Homo sapiens: one gene and its partners. The protein of the gene in region 1 purifies or fractionates together with the protein of each later gene. This does not show direct contact. Each region holds a gene or a part of one and is shown in the gene's direction. Other genes may lie near its edges.

Region 1 (3,927 bases):
GTGATCTTTTTACTAAGGTGGTGGCGGGGGTTGAGGAGCAGGGGTTGCCATTGCTGCTGCCTGCCTGGCTCTCTGAGTTTATAGATGGGCAAACTCGACTATAGAAAGGTTTAGGTGTCTTAGCCAAGGCAGCACAGATGAAATATGGCCCTAAAATCCTGCTTAATGATTGTTCACTTTATAGCTCCCATTCATTCCAGACATAAAATCAGAATGTGCCCTCTGTGCACCTCCTCCCCTCCATTACCACGGGGCACATTTACTTTAGATGCTGGATCCATTTATTCTGCCCCTTGGTGCTCAGAGCTTGGGTATAACCCTGCCCAACTGATTCTTTTGTGTTAGATTGAAAATCAGACTTGAAACTGAATTCCTGCTAAGGTGTTGATGATGGATAACTATCATTCAATACTATTTCAGTGATGGTGGTATTTTAGTAGCTGTCCTCTGGATACTCAAAGAAGTGGTAGAGTGGTGTAATGGCTAAAAACTGAGGCTGTGGGTTTGAATGTCTTTATGGCTCTGACATACTACAGAGCTAATACTTAGCCTGGTGCTTAAGAGATGTGATTCAACATAAGACAAATCTTGGCTGTGGAGAGGGGGTAATGAGTAGCACCTGTCCCTGAGGGTGCCCATATTAAGAGTCAGTTAATTAGTATTTATAGAGTCTTTGAAACTGTCATCTACTTAACATCATCCAGAAGGGTGGCTCTCAAATGGTGAGATTTCAGCTTTCATGCTGGTGGTTCTCTGCTGTGCTTCTCAAATCTGACCCTATAGATGTCACCTGGTCAACTTTCTTGCCATGGTGACTATCCTTCTTCACATGTATAGGGAAAGCCCCTCTGGGGCTTAAGGAGCTTGTGACATAGTTTTCAAGGTGTCTTTCTCCAGATCTTTTTGCATATTTGCAATAACCATGATTTTTCTCTCAGTGTATTTGCTGAATTGTTCTTTCTTTTTTTTTTCTTTTGAGACAGAGTCTCCCTCTGTCACCCAGGCTGGAGTGCAGTGGTGCAATCTTAGCTTACTGCAATCTCTGCCTCCCTGGTTCAAGCGATTTTTGTGCCTAAGCCTCCTGAGTAGCTGGGATTAAAGGCGCCCGCCACCATGCCTGGCTAACTTTTGTAGTTTTAGTAGTAGAGATGGGGTTTCTCTATGTTGGCTAGGCTGGTCTTGAACTCCTGAACTCAGGTGATCCACCCACTGTGGCCTCCCAAAGTACTGGGATTTCAGGCATGAGCCACCGTTCTCAGCCGAATTGTTCATTTTGAGTAGCTCCAAGAAGGGGTTTAAAAATGGATGTCATTTATCCTAACATGATGAATTCGTTCATGAAAAATTACAATTGGACCCATGTTTTGACATATCCCCGACCTAAAGGAGCAGAGAATAGGTGGTTGTCATCTTAGCCCCAGTTCTCACCAGTAGCTGCTATGAACTGGAGCGACTGGCAAAAAAGAAGCAATCTCAAAACAACCGTGTGAGGTAGAACTGTTATTATTCTGTATCGCAGCTGAGGACACTGAAGCACAGGGTGGATAAGTGACTTGCCTGAGGTCATGCCTCCTGTCAGGGATGGAGTCATCATTATGTCCTTATTTGACCGGAAGCTGGTGACATTTTTGGGGTATGGAGTGTGTTGGGGGGCTTGTGATCTCTCAGGTAGCTCTCACTGCTCTTTTTCCCCTTAGGGTCCGAAAGATTCTAAACCTGCGTGTATTTGAGGATGAGAGTGGGAAGCACTGGTCGAAGAGTGTGATGGACAAACAGTACGAGATTCTGTGTGTCAGCCAGTTTACCCTCCAGTGTGTCCTGAAGGGAAACAAGCCTGATTTCCACCTAGCAATGCCCACGGAGCAGGCAGAGGGCTTCTACAACAGCTTCCTGGAGCAGCTGCGTAAAACATACAGGCCGGAGCTTATCAAAGGTAAGCAGGAGAGCCACATCCAGGAACGGGTCTTTGGGACACTCCTGGATGGAGAGAAAAAAGAAGCTGCAACTGCAGCATCTCCTTTTCTGGAAAGTCATTGTTTATGCTTGTTACTTACTTAGAACCACATACTAGCTGCTGCTATTGCTGCTGTTGTACTTAACACATGTCCTCAGAATGCTTCTGCTGGCATTTGCCCTCCTCCCTTCTTCTGTTCACATTTTGAAAATGTTTGGGAACCCAGAGGTGTGGCTAATACAGTGGTATTTCTTTGATTGTTTAGCTTAGCCCTGTCCAATAGAAGTATAGTGCAAGCCTCAAATGTGAGCCAAATATGTCATTTTAAGTTCTTGTAGCCATATTTAAAAAAATAAAAAGAAATAGGTGAAATTAATTTAAAAAATATATTTTATTTAACTGAATATATTCAAAATATGATTTTACTATGTAGTCGTTATAAACAATGATGAGGTAGTTTACATTCTCTTTTTTTTTTTTCTAAATAAAGGCTTTATTTGATTAGAGCAGTTTTAGGTTCACAGTAAAATTGAGAGGATGGTACAGAGATATTCCATATATCTCTGCCCCCGCATGCATAGGCTCACTCATTATCAACATCCACCACTAGAGTGGTGCATTTGTTACAACTGATGAACCTAAGTTCATTGTTGGATTATAACTGTTGTTCATGGCACATCATTATCACCCACAGTCTCCTGTTGGCACTAGGGTTCACTCTAATATTCTCTGGGTTTGGGCAAATTTATAATGACATGTGTCTACCATTACAGTATCATACAGAATATTTTTTATTTTATTTTTATGATTTTGTTTCTTTTTCTGTTCTGGCTTCTCAATAAGCTTTTTTGACCTAGTCTCATAGACTCTCTCTTTTAGTAGATGAGAGAAAGTGTGTGTGTGTGTGTGTGTGTGTGTGTGTGTGTGTGTGTGTGTGTATAGAGAGAAGGAGCTATAGATGGTGTTTTTGTTCTCCTAATGGTTATTTCTAAGTTTTTAACATTCATGAATAGTTACAAAAATTTCTATCAAAATTTATAAGGATCTTAGTATATTTGAACATCCCCTTTTCCTTTCTAGTTCCACTTTTTAAAATGACTTTATTAAGATATAATACACATACTGTACAATTCACCTATTTAAAGTGTACAAGTCAATTTTTTTAGTTAAGAGTTGTGCAACCATTGCCACAATCTAATTTTATAACACTTTTGTCCCACTTAAAAGAAATCCTGTACTCATCAACAGTACTAGCCTACTCCCACTCTCTTCTTTGTTGCCCCAGTCCTAGGCAGCCATTAATCTACTTTCCGTCTCTTTAGATTTGTCTATTCTGAACATTTTATGTAAATGGAATTATATAATGTGTGGTTTTGTTCCTGGCTTCTTTCACTTAGCATAATGTTTTCAAGGTTCATCCATGTTGCCACTTTTCTTTTCATCATAATCATAATCACTTTTAATCATAATTTATTTATAATCTGTAACTGGCTGTATTTGATAATATATTTTATCAATTTCTGTGGTCACCAACCTGTCTTGCTTCCTTCTTTGGGCTCTTCTTTCTGAAGTACATTCTATGATATATCAGTTGTTTACTAAGAATGTGTTAGTGGAACATAGTCATTGTAGGTTTTAAAATGTTTTTATTTTGCCTTAATTCTTTATGATTGCTTAGCTGGGCATGGAATCCTAGCTTGACAGTTCTTTTCTCCCAACATTTTGTCTTTTTTTGTAAAAAAATTATTAGTATACTTTAAGTTCTGGGGTACATGTGCAGAACGTGCAGTTTTGTTACATAGGTATACATGTGCCATAGTGGTTTGCTGCATCCATCCACCCGTCACCTACATTAGTTATTTCTCCTAATGCTATCCCTCCCCTAGCCCCCCACCCCTCAACAGGTCCCGGTGTGTCCATGTGTTCTCCTTATTCAACTCCCACTTATAAGTAAGAACATGTGGCGTTTGGTT
Region 2 (3,927 bases), on another chromosome or scaffold:
TGTTTTGTTTTGGAAGAGTTTGAGTAGAAGTGAGAATTAGTTATTCTTGAAATGTTGGGTAGAATTCAGCAGTGAAGCCATCAGGTTCCAGGCTTTTCTTTGATGAAAGACTTTTTATTGCAGCTTCCATCTTATTACTTACTGGTCTGTTCAGGTTTTCAGTTTATTCATGTTTCAATCTTGGTAGGTTGTAAGTGTCCAGGAATTTATTAATTTCTTCTAGCTATTCCAATTTGTTGGCGTATAGTTGCTCATAATAGTATATAATGATTCTTTGTATTTCTGTGGTCTCAGTTGGTATGTCTACTTTTTCATTTCTGTTTTTATTTATTTGAATTTTCTTTCTTTTATTTGTCTAAAGTTTTGTCAATTTCATCTATCTTTTTGAAAAAACAACTTTTGTTGACCTGTATTTTTTTAGTCTCAATTTTATTTACTGCTGTTCTTATCTTCATTATTTATTTTCTTCTACTAATGTTGGGTTTGGATTGTTCCTGCTTTTCTAGTTTTTGAGATGCATTGTTAGGTTATTTATTTGAAATCTTTCTCCTTTTTTGATGTAGACAATTATTATTGTAAACTTCTCTCTTGGTACTGCTACTTTTGCTTTATCCCATAGATTTTGGTATTTTGTGTTTCCATTGTCATTTGATTCAGAATATTTTTAAATTCCCTTCTTAAATAGAGACAGCGTCTCACTTTGTCACCTAGGTTGGAGTGCAGTGGTGTGATCATGACCCACTGCATCCTCAATCTCCTTGGTTCAGGTGATGCTCCTGCCTCAGCCTCCTGAGTAGCTAGGACAATAGGCATAACACCACCAAGCCCAGCCAGCCCAGGTATTGTTGTGCTGCCCAGGCTGGCCTCAAACTCTTGGCTTCAAACAGTCCTTCCACCTTGACCTCTCAAAGTGCTGGGATGATAGGCATGAGCCACCATGCCCTGCCAGGAACAAGTCATTTGATTTGAACTTACTCCAAATTAAATCAAACAATTAATTAATTTTTTGTATTGTTTCCCAGGTTCCTCTTGTTAATGATTTCAAGTTTTATTCCATTGTGGTTACAAAAGATATGTGATATGATTTCTACTTAATTGACTTTTTGAGACTTGTTTTGTGGCCTAAGATGTGGTCTGTTCTGGAGAATGTTTCATATGCTGATGAAAAGATTGTCTGTTCTGCAGCAGTTGGGTGAAATATTCTATAATGTCAATTAGGCCTATTTGGTCTAGTTTAACTCCCCTGTTTCTTTGTTGATTTTCTGTCTGTATGATTTGTCCTTTCCTGAGAGTAGGGTGTTGAAGTCTCCTACTATTATTATATTGCACTCTATCTCTCCCTTTATGTCTATCAATATTTGCTTTATAGACTTGGGTATTCTGGTATTGGATGCTTAGATATTAATTGTTATATCCTTTTGCTGAATTGACCTGTTTATCATAATATAGTGACCTTCTTGCTCACTTTTTGGAGTCTTTGACTTATAGTCGTATTTTATCTGATATGTTAGCTACTCCTGCTCTTTTCTGGTTTCCCCTTGCATGGAATACCTTTTTCCAGCCCTTCACTTAGAGTGTTATGTGTGTCTGTGTAGGTGAAGTGGATTTCTTGTGGGAATTGTATGGTTTGGTCTTGTTTCTTTATCCAGTCATCTACTCTGTGTCTTCTAATTGGAGACTTGAGTTCATTTACATTCAGTGTTATTATTGGTAAGTAAGAACTTATTATTGCCATTTTATTGCATGTTTTGTGGTTGTTTTGTACTCCTCTCTTTTCCTTTCTGTGTTCTTTTGTGGTTAAGTGATTTTCTCTGATAGTATGTTTTAATTAATTGCTGTTTATTTTTAGTGTATCTATTATAGGTTTTTGCACTGTGGTTACCGTGAGGTTTATTAAAAAGTTTTAGAGCTATGACAAGTTATTTTAAAACAATGACAACTTATCTTAGATAGCAAAGAAAAAAATAGAAACTAACAAAGAAATTTAAAAACTTCTACACTTTAACTCTATCACCCCTAAAATTTTGACTTTTTATTGTCTCAACTTACATATTTTTATATTGCCTGTCTCTTAACAGGTTGCTGTAGCTACGATTGTTTTTAACAAGTTTGTCTTTTAGACTTCATACTAGAATTATGGGAGGACCAAAAACAATTATAGTATTAGAGCATCCTGGGTTTATCTATGTACTTACCTTTACCAGAGGATTTTATTTATTTTATTTTTGTTTTCAGAGACAGGGTCTTGCCTTGTCACCGAGGTTGGAGTGCAGTGGCATAATCATAGCTCACTGTAGTCTCGAACTCCTGGGCTCAAATGATTCTCCCACCTTAGCCTCCCAAGTATCTGGGACTACAGGCATTTGCCACCATGCTCAGGTAATTAGAAAAAAAATTTTTTTTAGAGATAAGGTCTTATGATGTTGCCCAGGATAGTCTTAAACTCCTGGCCTCAGGCAGTCCTCCTGACTTAGCTTTCCAAGTAGCTAGTATTACAGGCATGAACCACAGTGCCTGTAATAGACTAGCAATGAGTTTTATACCTTTAAATGTTTTCTTTTTGCACATTTTTTTTCTCTGAGATTGAAGAACTCCCTTTAGTGTTTCTTGTAAAATGAGTCTGGTGATGGTGAATTTTCTCAGTGCTTGTTTGTCTGGGAAAGACTTTATCTTTCCTTTTTTGTAGTTGAAGGATGGGTTTGCTGAATATAATATTCTTCAATGGCAGTTGTTTCTTTCAGCACTTTGAAAATGTCATCCCACTCTCTCCTGGCTTATTTGGTTCCCATTGTGGAGTCTGTTGCCAAACAAATTGAAGCTCCTTTATATGTTATTTGCTTTTTTTTAACTTGCTACTGTTAAGAGCCTCTCTTTGTCCTTGACATTTGAGAGTTTGATTATTATATGCCTTGGGGTAGTTTTATTTAGGTCAAATCTGTTCGTGTTCTCTGGCCTGAATATTGATATTTTTCTTAGATTTTGGGAAGCTTTATTTTTTTGAATAAACTTTCTACTCCTGCTCTTGCTCAGCTCCTTGAATACCAGTAATTCTTAGATTTAGTCTTTTGAGGTGATTTTCTATATCTTCTAGGCAATCTTCATTCCTTTTTATTATTTTTTTTCCTCATCTATGTGTTTTAAAATAGCCTGCCTTCTAGCTTACTGATTGTTTTTTTCTGCTTGATCCACTATGTTGTTGAGAGCCTCTAATGAATTTTTTAGTTCAGCAAACGTATTTCTCAGTTCCACCAAGATTTGTTTGATTTTTTATTGTTTCAAACTCTGTTAATTTTCTCTGATACATTTCTAGATTGATTTTTTGTGTTATTTGGGATGTCACTGAGTTTCCATAAAATCACTATTTTGTATTCATGGTCCAAGAGCTCACATATCACTCTCTCGTTAGGGTTAGTCACTGGTTCCTTGCTTTGTCCATTTGAGGAGATAATGGTTTGCTGTTGTTTCTTTTGGATGTACATCTATGTCTTTGCATTGAAACATTATTTATTTATTTTAGTCTTCTCTGACTAGTTTGGTTTTTATTGGACATGTTTGCTTAGAGATTCTTTGTAACTTACCTGTTGAATTTCTTTTTTTTTTTCTGCTAGGTCACTCTGCCTCTTTTTTGGCACTAGATGGAGGCTTAATTCCAGCTTTGCCTCTGCCCTAGTAAAGGATCAGAGTGTTGCCTGTTAGGAATTGGGGAGGTCCCAAAGGTGATATCTCAGCAGTGTAGAAAGGCTGGCTAGGGGTTTGTGCCCAGGGGACCTGTGGAACGTACCTCCTACCTAGTGGTCCTGCCGAACAAGTACTCTGATTTGGTGTCTCCTTTGACTAAGTTAAAGAGCAGAGTTTCCAAGACTGGGAATGGTAGTCCTGCCTTCCCCATCTGTCTCTGAGTGTCCTCAGGGCTGTTTCTCCCTTTGT
Region 3 (3,927 bases), on another chromosome or scaffold:
GAGAACTTACTCTCCTGGGAGTCTCAAAATGGAACTCAGCTGAGAGCGTGCTTCCCTCCCTTGCTGCCTGAGCTCTCTTTCCATTTCCTGGTTCTGCTTTACCTTCCCCTGAGTGGTTCTGTGTTCCCAGGATATGAAAGGCAGGGCCGCAGCTTCTGGCTTCACCGGGCTAATTTTTGTATTTTTAGTAGAGTCGGGGTTTCACCATGTTGGCCAGGCTGGTCGCCAACTCCTGACCTCAAGTGACTCGCCCGCCTCAGCCTCCCAAAGTGTTGAGGCTGAGGCCACCTCTGGCCCTCATTCTCTCAACATTCAAAAGCTTGTCACTTCATCCAGTTCCGAATTAACATTTTACTCTGGCTGATGATGAACGTCGGGGAGAAAGAGACATTTGTGCTGCATACGGGTTTATTGGTTATAAAATGGTTATACAATTTTGATTGCTGGAAACTTTGCTGACATGTAAGGTCACATGAGATGTGAGGCTGTTCAACTTTGATCATCTGATTTCTTTTTAGCACTGTGTCTGAAAGTGCCTATGTGCCGTTTTTGGTGAGACATATGTAGCATGGCTTCTGTAAAGGCACGTTGCTTTTTATTATAGTAATATTGTGGGCACAGAAAGGGTGAGGAGTTAGATGATTGGGAGAGTTTTTTCTTACTTAAAACACTTGTTTCATCAGAAAATATTTCCTAGCAGAGTTAGACATAGCTTTGTTCATAAAGTCCAGTGGTGAAGGGACTTCAGACTTTACGATAAACTAAATTTTATGATTGACTTTTGTGAGCAATTCACAGCTATAAAACTACGAGACTGGCTGGGCATGGTGGCTCACGCCTATAATCCCAGCACTTTGGGAGGCTGAGGCAGGTGGATCGCTTGAGCTCAAGAGTTCAACACCAGCCTGGGCAACATGGCAAAACATCGTCTCTACAAAAAAATTATCTGGGCATGGTGGCGCGTGCCTGTAGTCCCAGTTACTTAGGCTGAGGTGGGAGGATCATTTTGAGCCCAGGAGATTGAGGCTGCAGTGACCTGAGATTGTGCCACTGCACTTTAGCCTGGGTGACAAAGTGAAACCCTGCCTCAAAAAAAAAAAAAAATACCTACAAGAACATCTGGGTGATAACTCACTGCACACAGACATGCCTCCTTCAAAAGATCCAAGCTGACCACAAAAAAAAAGGAGAAACTGTCTTTTCTTGATAGTAAATTGGATGGAGACATTAGTAAGGTAGAAGGTGTCTGAGGGGCTTCTTCATGATAAAAAGCAAAAGGTTTTGGGGTGTCACTGACCCAAAATATTAGCAGAAATCAGATTTACTCTATTATTGAGGAACACAATACATTAAATTGTTTATAGATCCAGTTTCAAGAAAGAAGATGTTTATATTAAAAAAATGACAAAAGCTCCTTCAATTTTTTTGAGAACTAAGAAATAAGAGATTTTAGCAGTACTGCCAAAATAGAATTTGGATTTGAATTTAAGACACTGGTAAATGTGTGTGGAAGGATCGGTCTTGTTAATTACACCTTGGACCAAGGGCTGCTTGGAATGAATAAAAGAGGGGGAAAGGTTTAGACAAGTAGAATCTCTAGGTTGATATCAAGTTAGTATTTATAATCTTTGTAAATAAACCAAAACCTCTCAAAGACTCCTGCTGTCTCTTCCTGGAGAGCACTCTGAATTCTTTCCTGGCGGTCTCCCTTTTCCTTCCCCTCTCCCCAGGTTTAAGATCATTGGGACATCCTTTTGGTCAAGGAAATGTTTCTAAGAGTGACCTAGTTATTGGAATTTTAAGTGTTAATCAGGTCAGTGAGGTGCCATCTGTGAAACACAGCTCACCAAAACCCAATGTTTTTCATCAGAAGTTGTCATGGAAGTGAGTTGATTTTGGAAAAACAACAATAATAGCAATTTGCTTGATCCCTTTCTTATCCTCAAATAGCCAAATTAAATTCAAGATTATTGGCCAGGTGCAGTGGCTCACGCCTGTAATCCCAGCACTTTGGGAGGCCGAGGCAGGCGGATCACGAGGTCAGGATATTGAGACCATCCTGGCTAACATGGTGAAACCCCGTCTCTACTAAAAAATACAAATAATTAGCCAGGCGTGGTGGTGGGTGCCTGTAGTCCCAGCTACTCAGGAGACTGAGGCAGGAGAATGGCGTGAACCCGGGAGGCAGAGCTTGCAGTGAGCTGAGATCACGGCACTGCATCTCCAGCCTGGGCAGCAGAGCAAGACTCCGTCTCAAAAAAAAAAAAAAATTCAAGATTATTATCAGTGGAAAAAGGAAATCTGAAAATCTCTGAATGTTTAGTGGTCAATTAAAATGAGTCTTAGGGCAATTTAAAGTTTAGATACCTGAAACCAGTTGGCCTATGATCAGAACCATGGATGAGAAGTCAAAGTCTGTGATTCTGTTTCTGACCCCATGAGAAGGAAGGCCTTCTCTTCAGCTGTAGGTTTGATAATTAAACAAGATAGTGGATGTGAAAGTAACTAGTCAACTACAAGATAGAGGAAAGGCATTTATTGATGTTTAAAAAAGCTTTCTGATTTTACTTCCTTTCACTGATAAGTGGCCAAGACTTAGAGAATGACTTGCCTGCTGGAGGTTGCCTGATTTGAAACTGCCAGAAATTAAACTCATAACTGTGTCTTATAATTTCAACATTTGAAAAAATGTCAGGGTTAATTTTTTTGAGACAGAGTCTTGCTCCGTTGCTCAGGCTGGAGTGAGGGGCACAATCTTGGCTCACTGCAACCTTTCGCCTCCCGGGTTCAAGTGATTCTCCTGCTTCATCCTCCCCAGTAGCTGGGGTTACAGGCATGTGCCACCATGCCCAGCTAATTTTTGTATTTCTAGTAGAGACATGGTTTCTCCATGTTGTCCAGGCTGATCTCGAACTCCTGACCTCATGGGACTTCAGTCTAGCTCCAAATCTAGTGCTCTTGCAGTCAATTCATATTTTCTTCTGTTACTGACCATATGAAATAATTCCTCTATGAAATTTATGTGCAATTTTTATAAAAGTCTAAATGTATTTTATGGCTAACCCTCAACTATGGAGCATATTAACATTAAAATGAGTTCTTGAAATAAGAGTTGATTAACATGGGAAAATATCCATCTCTTTCATCTTGAACAAAGTAGTTTTGTTTTAAAACTTATACTTCCTGCTAATGTACATCTGGAATGTGTAGGATAAAAGATTAAACTTTCTAAATATTTTACAAAGTTATATTCTCCCTATGTGATATATATTGTTCTGTGGGAGACTAAGCCTTAATTGAAGTATTTCTGCAAGGTTACTATAAGCATTTCTCATACCACTAGGACAATAAATAATGGGAGAACCCAAAACATTGTAATTTTCTAGTAATTCAGAGGAAATAACTGAATCCTGAAACATTGTACAAAAGGGTACACAATGATACCCATTTTTGCATGTTAATGTATTATTAAATATCAGTGGGAATAGTCTGCATGCTATTTCACATCTCAGGCACACTTAAGGAAGACCTTGTGATGTGCATGTTGCTCATTTAATCTAGAAAGGATACCAAGATTCATTTAGAACTTCTTTATGCACAGTTTTTTTTTGAGTATGTTATGTCCTGAGGCATTAAGGGTATTACTAAAGCAAGCAGCGGGACTTCTCAGAGAAATTAAAGGTTTCATATCAACCACACGTTGTCAAAATCTTCACTTTGAATAGGATTAAATGATGTTTCATCAGTATTCTTGGCACACATGACATTGTTTTTAAAATAACAGTTTTATTACTCTTGGCTGTGACAGTTTCTCAGACTTTCCTTAATATCATACAATTCTCCAATTTAAACTGTATAGTCAGTTTTACAATATTTTAATTACCCTGTATTCATTAGCACTTTCCTCATTTTCTACTACCTCCTCCC
Region 4 (3,927 bases), on another chromosome or scaffold:
TTGAACTAGGTGAACAATTAGTGTAATTCTGTTTTGGTGGTTCTCCTTTGTAAAAAAAAGATTATAAATCCTAAAAAATGAGGGAAGCAATAGTGATATTTGTGTTGTTTTTCATTATTCTTCTGGTAAATTTAATATGTTCTTTTTTAACCATTTGATTCCCACAGAAAAATAACTAGATATACTGATATAAACATGGAAGATTTCAAGTGTCCTATTTTTCTTGGTTGCATAATCTGTGTGACTGGCTTATGTGGCTTAGACAGGAAAGAAGTTCAGCAACTCACAGTTAAGCATGGAGGTCAATACATGGGACAATTGAAAATGAATGAATGTACACACCTCATTGTGCAAGAACCAAAAGGTAAAACTGTGTTTCACAAAGGGACAAATGAAACATTTTCTCTAGTATTTAATATTTTATTTTTATTTATTTATTTATTTATTTTGAGACAGAGTCTTGCTCTATTGCCCAGGCTGGAGGGCAGTGGCACAATCTCAGCTCACTGCAACCTCTGCCTCCCTTGATCAAGCGATTCTCCCAACTCAGCTTCCCGAGTAGCGGGATTACAGGCACCTGCCACCACGCCTGAATAACTTTTTATTTTTAGTAGAGACGGGCTTTCACCATGTTGGCCAGACTGGTCTCTAACTGACCTCAATTGATCTTCCCACCTCAACCTCCCAAAGTCCTGGGATTACAGGCATGAGCCACCGTGCCCAGCCACTAATATTTAATATTTTAAAATCTTTACAGAACAGCTTTTACTTCTGACATGTCATTAATCTAGTTTGATACTGTTTTCTCTAACATCTTGCAAAGATGTTTTCTCTAACATCTTGCAAAGTTTTAACTGGAAGACACACCTTGCGGCACATGAGGCAGTAAAAAATGAAAAAGACATTACGAACAAGAAAAATTCTTTAAAATTGCTATTAAGTTTGGTGTTACATAACATTATTCTGGATAATTTTTTATCAGCACTCTTAAAATATACACAAATTGATAAAAGATGAGTTTTGTTAATGTTTTTATTATTGCCCTTTATATGTATACTGTGTTTTACTAAGCTATCTAGATTGAGAAGAAATTACGATTAAATGGTAATTGTCCTTAAGTCAGAACTTTGAGTATGGCTGATTGTGATAGGATCACTGTGAGTAGAGTTGATACTGCTGTTCTTTTTCTGAATCTGAAGACAGTTCATTGTTGATTCTCTCAAGAATGCCAAAAAACCTTTCATGTGACATATTGACCTCAATTCCTCTGTGATACTGCTTCAAAATACATTGTGTTGAAGATTTTTAAGGTAATAAAAGATACATATTTTCAATATAATTTATCTTTTGGCTTATCTATCCTGGACTTTAAGTAGAAGCCTGTTGACATTGGAATAGTCTGTTCAAAGTTGGGATTTATTATATAGCACAAATTTACAATTTTCACATTGTACAAGCTGGTTTAAAGAAATTAAGTGATGGAGCCTATATGCAAACCCAAGTCCAATATTAATTAAGTTACCCCACAGTTGCTTCTGTCTTCCTGCAGTTTGTATAAAAGATAAAACCTCTCACATGGCATATGTATTTATACTACACATAGAAAATATAATTAGGCAATAAGCTAAAATACTACTTTGTAATAAACTGTGTAGCATACTGTTTAAGAGTAAGTACTGGTAACTTTAATTTTGTTGATAGGTTTTTGAAATAACCTGTTATAGCCGGGCGCGGTTGCTCACGCTTGTAATCCCAGCATTTTGGGAGGCCAAGGCAGGCGAATCACCTGAGGTCAGGAGTTTGAGACCAGCCTAGCCAACATGGTGAAACCCCGTGTCTACTAAAAATACAAAAAAATTAGCCAGACATGGTGGCACACGTCTGTAATCCTAGCTATTCAGGAGGCTGAGGCAGGAGAATCGCTTGATCAGGAGGGAGGTGGAGGTTGCAGTGAGCCAAGATCTCACCACTGTACTCCAGCCTGGGCAACAGAGTGAGACTCCATCTCAAAAAAAAAAAAAAAATATTAACCTGTTATAATTTGAATATTTCTGCAAAGATAGATTGTAATGGTTTTCATTTCTTGGTTTCTCCTATTTTCTCTATTTCTTTCTTAATGAACGCCACAGGTCAGAAGTATGAGTGTGCCAAGAGATGGAATGTACACTGTGTGACCACACAGTGGTTTTTTGACAGTATTGAGAAAGGTTTTTGTCAGGATGAATCCATATACAAGACAGAACCTAGACCAGAAGCAAAGACTATGCCCAATTCTTCAACTCCTACCAGCCAGATCAACACAATTGATAGTGAGTCTCATTGAGATTAAAATAATTATTCTGAAGACAGTCATATTTCTATGTAATAATCAGTATGTTAATAGGATCACTGAGATAGGGAATTTCTTTTTCTTGTTTGCTGTGCTTCTAGGCATAATTGTATAATAGTCAAATTGTATAAAAAGTTAGCACTGAACTGTTCGTAATTTTCTTTTAGAATGAATGAATGCTGTCTTTTATACTCTGTTGTAATGCAAAAGATGATCAAAGAAATTAAGAACAATGGTAGCTGGGGGCTTAAGATAAAAGTATTAATCTTTTAAACATTACATGCATATATTAATCTTTCCTTAATTTACAGTTTTGCTGCAGTTATAGATCATCTGTATTTGTATAAAAATTAAAACCATTTCTATTTTGTAGGTGTCGTGTTGGCAAAATGTTTAAAATATTTTTTCAAATGTAAGCTTCTTGGACCTTAAAGTCAGCAACTTCAGATTTTTATGGGAAACAAGACACTATTAAGAAAATGTGTTAAATCTATTTTCATTTAAATAAGATAGGAGGCTTAATTAATTTCATTTTCCCTTTTTATACTTTGCCACTAAGATTTCAGTAAACACCCCTGAATCTTACTTTGGAAGTTGTTTATTGCCCTATATTTGTAAGAAAAGTTAATCCATAGACAATATGTAATCATGATTATTTTATCTCCCATAAATTTATACGTTTTCAAAATATGTAGGTCGTACTCTTTCAGATGTCAGCAATATTTCCAACATAAATGCAAGTTGCGTAAGTGAATCAATATGTAATTCACTTAACAGCAAACTGGAGCCTACACTTGAAAATCTAGAAAATCTGGATGTCAGTGCATTTCAAGCACCTGAAGATTTATTAGATGGTTGTCGGGTACGTCTTTATTATATAATACATGCAGTAGATGATATACATTAGCATTTCCTAGCCTGACTTTGAAGACCCTTCAGAGTTGGGCTTGCTCCTTACTATCTATGTAAACCCTCCACTCTAGCTAAGTAGATGCACTTACTAGACCATGTCCATCCTTTGGCTGCGAGAGTCCCTCTGCCTGCAAGGTATCTTCCTCTGTTATCTTTTAAAAGTTCATTTCAGGTTTTAACTCTTCTCTGAACCCTCCTAACTACATTAATCTTTTCATCTGCTATATTTCGAGAGCACTTAGTTTCTGAACAACTTATTGGATTTTTTTTTTTTAATTTTTTTGAGTTAGGGTCTCACTCTGTTGCCCAGGCTGGGATGCAGTGGCACAATCATAACTTCCTGTAACCTTGAACTCCTGGGCATCAGCCACCCCTCAGTCTCCCGAGCAGTTAGAACTACAGGCATGTGCCACTACACCTGGCTAATTTTTAAAATTTTTTTGTAGAGACAAGGTCTCACTATGTTGCCCAGGTTTGGACTTTAAACTATCATCCAAGTGTTTACAGTGTATTAGACACTGTGCTAATCATTTTATGTGTGTTAATATATATATAAAATCGCATTTAAGTCCCACAAATAACTCTAAAATGGATATTATCTTGAGGGTAAGACTTAGAGAATTAAAATTCTTGTTCAGAGTCACACAGAGAGACATTAAGTGGCCAGTTATCTACTCCAAAGTCTG

Evidence for each region. The genes of interacting proteins can lie anywhere in the genome.
Region 2: the proteins of DTD1 (region 1) and POLK purify together in Homo sapiens (affinity purification with mass spectrometry; one large-scale study listed by BioGRID and IntAct). This does not show direct contact.
Region 3: the proteins of DTD1 (region 1) and PLS1 purify together in Homo sapiens (affinity purification with mass spectrometry; one large-scale study listed by BioGRID and IntAct). This does not show direct contact.
Region 4: the proteins of DTD1 (region 1) and TOPBP1 purify together in Homo sapiens (affinity purification with western blotting; one study listed by BioGRID). This does not show direct contact.

What each region holds. Positions count from the first base shown.
Region 1 is NC_000020.11:18,594,309-18,598,235, forward strand, and holds part of DTD1 (D-aminoacyl-tRNA deacylase 1), read left to right. Parts: intron 1-1,697; coding exon 1,698-1,933; intron 1,934-3,927. UniProt on the Homo sapiens protein: Possible ATPase involved in DNA replication, may facilitate loading of CDC45 onto pre-replication complexes. An aminoacyl-tRNA editing enzyme that deacylates mischarged D-aminoacyl-tRNAs.
Region 2 is NC_000005.10:75,518,179-75,522,105, forward strand, and holds part of POLK (DNA polymerase kappa), read left to right. Parts: intron 1-3,927. UniProt on the Homo sapiens protein: DNA polymerase specifically involved in DNA repair. Plays an important role in translesion synthesis, where the normal high-fidelity DNA polymerases cannot proceed and DNA synthesis stalls.
Region 3 is NC_000003.12:142,602,681-142,606,607, forward strand, and holds part of PLS1 (plastin-1), read left to right. Parts: intron 1-3,927. UniProt on the Homo sapiens protein: Actin-bundling protein. In the inner ear, it is required for stereocilia formation. Mediates liquid packing of actin filaments that is necessary for stereocilia to grow to their proper dimensions.
Region 4 is NC_000003.12:133,651,727-133,655,653, reverse strand, and holds part of TOPBP1 (DNA topoisomerase 2-binding protein 1), read left to right. Parts: intron 1-167; coding exon 168-364; intron 365-2,129; coding exon 2,130-2,309; intron 2,310-3,024; coding exon 3,025-3,191; intron 3,192-3,927. UniProt on the Homo sapiens protein: Scaffold protein that acts as a key protein-protein adapter in DNA replication and DNA repair. Composed of multiple BRCT domains, which specifically recognize and bind phosphorylated proteins, bringing proteins together into functional combinations.